Linked DNA regions of Homo sapiens. The protein of the gene in region 1 interacts with the protein of each later gene in a pairwise test. Each region holds a gene or a part of one and is shown in the gene's direction. Other genes may lie near its edges.

Region 1 (3,500 bases):
GGGATCTTTTCTTGCGTAGGAACCTCCTTTTGCCTTTTCTTTCCCTAAGCTTACACAGAGACTGGGGCTACTAGAGATGCTAGGAAAACTACTTCTTTAAAAATGCTTTATCACCAAACAGTATTGAAATGTGTTCAACTTCAAAAGAAGGTTAGAACAAAAAGTTGGCTGTGCAGCCTGGCCTGCGAGTGGCAGCTACACGGCCAGGTTACCCTTTGTGACTGTGCTTCCAAAAACATCAGCCCTGGAGCTTCAGGATTCACCACACATATAATGGCTTCCCAAAGGTCTCTGTCCCTGAGGTTCTGTGTGCAGGAGGTGGTCTGCAGAACCTTGCTGTGTTCTAAGGCTGCACCTTACTGCCTGGGTTTGGGGCTTCCTTACATTTTTTTAAGTGTGAACCTGTGGTGTTTTCCTTCCTTAATGATATAAATGAGCTCCCTTGGTTGGCTTTTGGCAACTGCCTTAAAGATTTCCTTCAGATGACCCTATTCTGTCTATTTGGGAGAAAAGGAGTCTTTCTTCAGAGAGCTGTGGCCTTGGGATGCTGGCTCCAGTGAGAGAGTCTTTGATTGTCCCCCTGGGACGGGTTCTCTAGATGACACCACGCAGCCTTATTTGCCCGAGGACCCCATTCATCTTGATTGACAGGACTGTAAACTCAAAGACTCAACACATTTTTATTGTGCACCAACTATCTGTTTGGTATTGTGCTGGGTGCTCTAACATGGGGCCTTAAATTATTTTTCACTTACCATGAAACTGGCGAGGAAAAAACTCACAGAACATTGGAAAATCCTCTACTAAGAGTTATTTATATGTGGAGAGTAATATTGGTTGCTCATTTCTCCATGTGAAGAACACATAAGACTACTTTCTGTTAGCAAAATCAGACAGTTCTATTGGCTGAAGCCAAATAACAAACAGCTAAGTAGAACTAGTGTCCTGTTTGTTTCTGCCCAGACTGCAGAGTGGGATGAACTTGCAGATATGCTTTGTCAACGACAGTGGCAGTGATAAGGACAGTGATGCTGATGACAGTAAGACTGAAACCAGCTTGGACACCCCCTTGTCTCCCATGGTGAGTCCAAACAGCACCAGCTGAAGCTCGGTGTTGTGATTTCCGGGCCATTTAGCTTCTTTTCTGTTGTAAGGTGAATCAGGAACAAACATTTCAGAGATTAAAGAAGAAAAGTTTCTTGGAATTGCATGCTCCTAAAATTTGACAATGATTAAAAAGTCAAAGTTGTAATAAAATAGAGATATATAAGCTTTCTTAAAGTTAATAACTATTTTCATATTAAACCATTAGAGAAATCACCAGCCTGGGCAACATGGCAAAACCCTGTCTCTATAAAAAAATACAAACATTAGCTGATCATGGTGCCTATAGTCCCAGCTACTCAGGAGGCTGAGGCGGGAGGATCAGCTGAGCCCAGGAGTTCAAGGCTGCAGTGAGCTATGATGACACCTCTGCACTCCAGCCGGGGCAACATAGTGAGACCCTGTCTCTAACGAGAGAGAGTGTATTAGTTCATTTTCATGTTGCCGATAAAGACATATCCAAGACTGGGCAATTTACAAAAGAAAGAGGTTTAATGGACTTACAGTTCCACATGGCTAATGAGGCCTTGCAATCATGGCGGAAGGCAAGGAGGAGCAAGTCACGTCTTACATTTTTAAAACCATCATATCTGGTGAGACTCATTCACTATCACAAGAACAGTACAGGAAAGACCCACCCCCATAATTCAATTACCTCCCACTGGGTTCCTGCCACGACACATGGGAATTGTGGGAGTTACAATTCAGGATGAGATTTGGGTGGGTACACAGCCAAACCATATCAGAGAGAGAGAGAGAAATTAGATATGCTCTAAAAATTATAAAGAGAAAATAAGCTAAATCCAGTTCTTCCCTATTGGGCTTAGAAATATTAGCTCATGTCTTTCCTTCCCATTACAGAAGTTGGCTGAATAATCATGGGTGCCTGTTGCTGGAATTCTTTCCTCTCTGTGAGGTCTGTCTATAGCCTTTTTTACCAAAGACCAACAAAGAGGAAACTGTTGTCGTTGAGTGCAGTGCGACATCAGAACATCACTGGATACATGAGATCCTGTCCACGCAAAGAACCTACGTAGGGCCTTGGCTTCGAGTCAATATTTTGTTATGTCTGTTCACTTCAGGAAAGTTTTGAGGCCAAGAATCAAAGACATATTTCAAGGTTGTTGTAAATATATTTCCCATTATTAACTATACTGCTCTCTCTGTTTATGCTAAAATCTATTTTAAACTAGACCCTTTTTCTGTTACTTGAGATTTATCAACTCAAGTAGCAAGTCACATTGAGGGAGGGAACTCTGAGCTGCTCTGAGAGAAGGCTCAGAGGATGTTGTAGCCCATCTCTAAGTGGATGCTAGCTGGCATGCATGGAAGGCTCAGGCTGCTCTTTTTCCCTTTGCAGAGCAAACAGAGTTCTTCCTATTCTGATAGAGACACTACTGAAGAGGAGTCTGAATCCTTGGATGACATGGACTTCCTTACAAGGCAAAAGAAATTGCAAGCTGAAGCCAAAATGGCCCTTGCCATGGCCAAACCAATGGCCAAAATGCAAGTAGAAGTGGAGAAACAGAACAGGAAAAAGTCTCCCGTCGCTGATCTTGTAAGCAGCAAAGGCTGAAATGCAAGGAAGTGTTTGGGAGCCAGAAATGGTTGACACTGTCCCAGTCCTTTCCCAGAATTATGCAAACTTGTGTTTCTCTAAGGCGGTTTGTAAAAAGTCCTGTCATTGAGAAATGATTAAGTTTGTTTCTTTTTCCTTCCTACTGTAGGACTGAAAAATACAGAAGCAATAGATTTCACAAAAGTAAAGTTTGCTGTTGATTGATGTCTACTGTTTCTTAGCAACAATATTAGCTGCCACGGGAATATTTAAATTCCTTTGAAGCGATCTCAATCTAAGAACCTATTGGTCTTGGCAAACTTACTATTGCTATAATTGTCATTCTCATATTTCAATAAAGACAATATCACATAGTGAATAGGAGTCCTGGACTTTGGAGTTTAAGTCTAGCTCTGCCATTGACCTGCTATGAAGTTCTAAGCAAGTTACTTAAGTCTCAGTTTTCTCATCTATAAAATGGGGATGATAATGCCTGTGTCAGAGTATGATTGTGAGGATTCAGTGAGATAAAGTATTCAAAGCACATAGCACAGTGCTTGTAGCATGGTATAAATTATTAAATAGTAGCTGATACTAATTTTTTCCATGTCATTGATATTATTGATGTTCCTTGATAATTCATTTGTGGCTATAACATTGACTCACAACCCATATTAAAGACGAGTCAAAAAGCTTTTGATGCTGGTAGTGTTGTGTTTTGATGCCAGTTGCATATTAGGTAATGTAGTGTGGATGTAGGGCCCCACATTGGGAAAGACACAGACTGGGAAAGCTTTTAATCACTGAATTGCAGTGGGTGGGTGAGTGGGTCTTTTAA
Region 2 (3,296 bases), on another chromosome or scaffold:
AGGAAGCTGCCCTCTGACACTGATACAGAAGGGAGATGCAAACGACAGGACATGGCCCCAAGGGGCTGCGAGGTGCTTATGGGGGAGAGAGAATCCAGAAGGGTGATGCCAGCATCAGCCAGATGCCGGGGTGTGGACTAGTGACAGCCATTGGCTTCTGCTCCATGAGGGCCTCTTGCTGACAGTGGTGGGGTTTCTGTAACCCCACCTGACTGGGCCCATGGATGCCGTCTCCAAAGGTGGAAGCAGCTTGGTGAAGTGGGCAGAGTGGTGTTCCTGAGGCCAGAAATGATGGAATCCCTAACTCAACTCTTAACTGCTGTGTGACTTCTGGCAAGTCATTTTGCCTCTCCGAGCCTCAGTTGTCTCATCTGCAAAATGGGGATGACAATGCCTACCTCTCATAAAGACTGAATGACCTAATGACTATCAAATGCTGATGTGTAGTAAGTGCTCGAGAAATGGGGATGATAATGCTGATTTGTTCAGGGCCACTCAGGTTTTGGTTGGAGGCCTTGTACTGGAACAGTGTGACCTTGGGAAGGGTAGAGTGTCCTCTACCCTTTCTGAGCCTCAGTTTCCTTCTCTCTTTCCTCTTCCCTGTGTTCTTGAGTCAACTCTCTGGAAAGCAGAGGAGAAAGAAAAACCTGGAGTTGTTCCCAGGGAGACTAGAAAGGGAATCTCAGTTCATCTTCACCCCATTCTCTGGAGCTCCTTCCCCCAATGATTGACCTGAGATATTCCCCCTAGTGCCTCAGTTTCCCCCATGCCCTAGAGCTGTGATAAGATCAGGGCTACCTCCTCTCCCCTGCCCTCCTCAGGTCACTAAGGGTCAGAGCGATGCCTGGATGAGACAGTGTCTCATCCCTCTCCATGCCGTCTATTCCCATTGATGGCAGCAATTTGAAGGTGTGGCAGGTCTTAGGAGATTCTTTTGGGGAAGCAGGAGCCTCTTCCTCCAGGCTGACCATGGTGTGGTCACAAAAGCCATATAGAGTCCACTCTGGAGGAGAGAAAACTAGAAGAGGAGAGAGGAGAGTAAAACCCTCTTTTACTCCCTTGCTAACTTGGAATGACTTTGGAGCAGACTCGTGTATGATGGGGTGGAGTCGGAGGAGAGCATCCTCTAGTCATAGCATCTGAGCCGCAGCGTGGTGACTCAGAGCATTTGTCTTGGTGTCTGTGCTGCTTTGGGGAGGCCAGAGCTGCTGGCAGAAGGACAGGCTCCCCAACAGTGCTCAAAATCACCCCAACCTCACAACACATATCACTGAAACAGCAACATGGCTACCAGGTATTTAGCACCTACTCAACGTCAGACTCTGTGCATGCATTTATTATCCATAGCTTCACAGCGACGCCGTAAGCTGAGTATCATTTCTCCCATTTTGCAGATGTGGAAACAGAGGCTCTCTCAAGATCACAGAGCGAGTAAGTGGTAGAGGCCACTTTGATTTGAAGCCAGATCACCTGTCTTAAAAGCCCAGGTTTTGCCTCTGTACAATGCTGTCTCACCAAGACAGAAGGGAGAAACCAAGGCCTCTGTTGTGAATTTGTATAACCTTGATATTTGTACAACCAGATTTCATGTGAAGAAACACGTTGAGGGGTGGGGATTACGATGTGCTTCGTCTCCCTGCCCCAGCAACCTCCTTGCCATTTCAGAATTAGAATTCCAGCTTCTATGAAAAGACCGCGTGTAGTTGGGGTTTCAGCACCATGGACAAGACACCAACTCTGGAGGCCTAGAAAGAGCCGGGGCTGGAGGAGAGGGCATGCGCAGCAGAGTGGGGTGGGGTGTTGGCTTTGGTGCTCCCTGGAGTTGACACATCTTGGCTTTGCCTCCTCCGCCTTTCCATCTGCGGAAGGTTGCCTGGGAATCTGGCTCTGCTCCTGCCTCCTTCTGACCTCATCTCCCCATATCCAACCCACCTCTGGCCTCGAGAACTAAGCAGGGCTCTCACGCAATTTAGGAACTGGACAAATCCCAGTGCCGGGAAAATCCCTGGCTGTCAAAGCCCAGATGTATTCACAGACCGCAAACACACCCTTTGCGTAGCTCATGATGAATTGTGCACACCACTGCCCACGGGCATTAAATAGTAAATAGAGGTGGGCCTAATTTTGTGTAAATCTAATATATGAAAATCCACGTTGATTACAGAAACACATGGTTTAGAGGAGGGCTTCACATCCCAGCTTTCACGGACTCCTAGGGGTTTCTGGTGGAAACCTAGAGACTTCAAGGTCATCTCTGAACCTTCTGGAAGTGTGAAACGTTGTTTTCTTGTCTGTGTGTGTGTGTGTAAAAATTTACAAGCCTTTTATTTTCTGGGGAGAGGTTTGTGTGTGTGTGTGTGTGTGTGTGAGATTTCATTAGATTTTCAAAAGGCTCATGAAGTTTAACAAGTGAAGAGCACTGCTGAGCTAAAGAATGATCCAGCTCAGAGAGCCCTTTGGGACTGTGGGGGCCAGTTTGCAAAGTCAAATTCTAACCTCCCCGGGCCCATGCCTTCCTTTCAGTGGCTGCTGGGAAGTAGCTTCTTTCTCTTCCTCCCTCCTACCCCTTCCTCCTCTTCCTGTCCACTTTTGAGAATGGAGATGCCTGCCAGTTCGCAGTATAATTGAGCTATAAAATGCCAAGGTAACCAGCATCCTTAGGAGCCTATTAAGAGATTTAGCTGCAAACATTGGCTCTGTGCACACATTCTCAAAAAAGCCTTTCTATTTTGTGGGGCTCAAGAGTAATTGCCCAGGCAAGACTATTGCTCCCAAATGTGAAGACAATCCACATACAAAGCAATTGCCAAGCTCTGGACAGTAACAGGTCCTCTTTTTCAAGTACTGTTCAATTGCAATTGATTTTGTGTGTGTCTGTGTGTGTGACAGAGTCTCGCTCTGTCACCCAGGCTTGGAGTGCAGTGATGTGAGCTTGGCACACTGCAACCTCCACCTCCTGGGTTCAAGCAATTCTCCTGCCTCAGTCTCCTGAGTAGCTGGGATTACAGGTGCCTGCCACCACGCCTGGCTAATTTTTGTATTTTTAGTAGAGGCAAGGTTTCACCCTGTTGGCCAGGCTGGTCTCAAACTCCTGACCTCAAGTGATCTGCCTGCCTCGGCCTCCCAAAGTGCTGGGATTACAGGCGTGAGCCACTGTGCCCAGTCAATTGCAATTGATTTCTGTAGCGCTAAAGGCTTTGGAAGGTGCTGGGCTCATTGTAATGTGTGTGTTGGCCTGTGTCACGTATTGTCTTTGCAGGGATGGTTGTTCTTCTGAACCATCTGATTTGTGTTTC

The links. Proteins that work in one complex are often made in the same cells at the same time.
Region 2: the proteins of SCHIP1 (region 1) and HTR6 interact in a two-hybrid assay, tested with the Homo sapiens proteins (one large-scale study listed by BioGRID).

The regions. Positions count from the first base shown.
Region 1 is NC_000003.12:159,885,244-159,888,743, forward strand, and holds part of SCHIP1 (schwannomin-interacting protein 1), read left to right. Parts: intron 1-963; coding exon 964-1,081; intron 1,082-1,965; exon of another isoform or gene 1,966-2,224; intron 2,225-2,464; coding exon 2,465-2,662; intron 2,663-3,500. Other genes in the region: IQCJ-SCHIP1 readthrough transcript protein, read left to right, coding at 964-1,081, 2,465-2,662.
Region 2 is NC_000001.11:19,674,875-19,678,170, forward strand, and holds part of HTR6 (5-hydroxytryptamine receptor 6), read left to right. Parts: intron 1-3,296. UniProt on the Homo sapiens protein: G-protein coupled receptor for 5-hydroxytryptamine (serotonin), a biogenic hormone that functions as a neurotransmitter, a hormone and a mitogen. Also has a high affinity for tricyclic psychotropic drugs.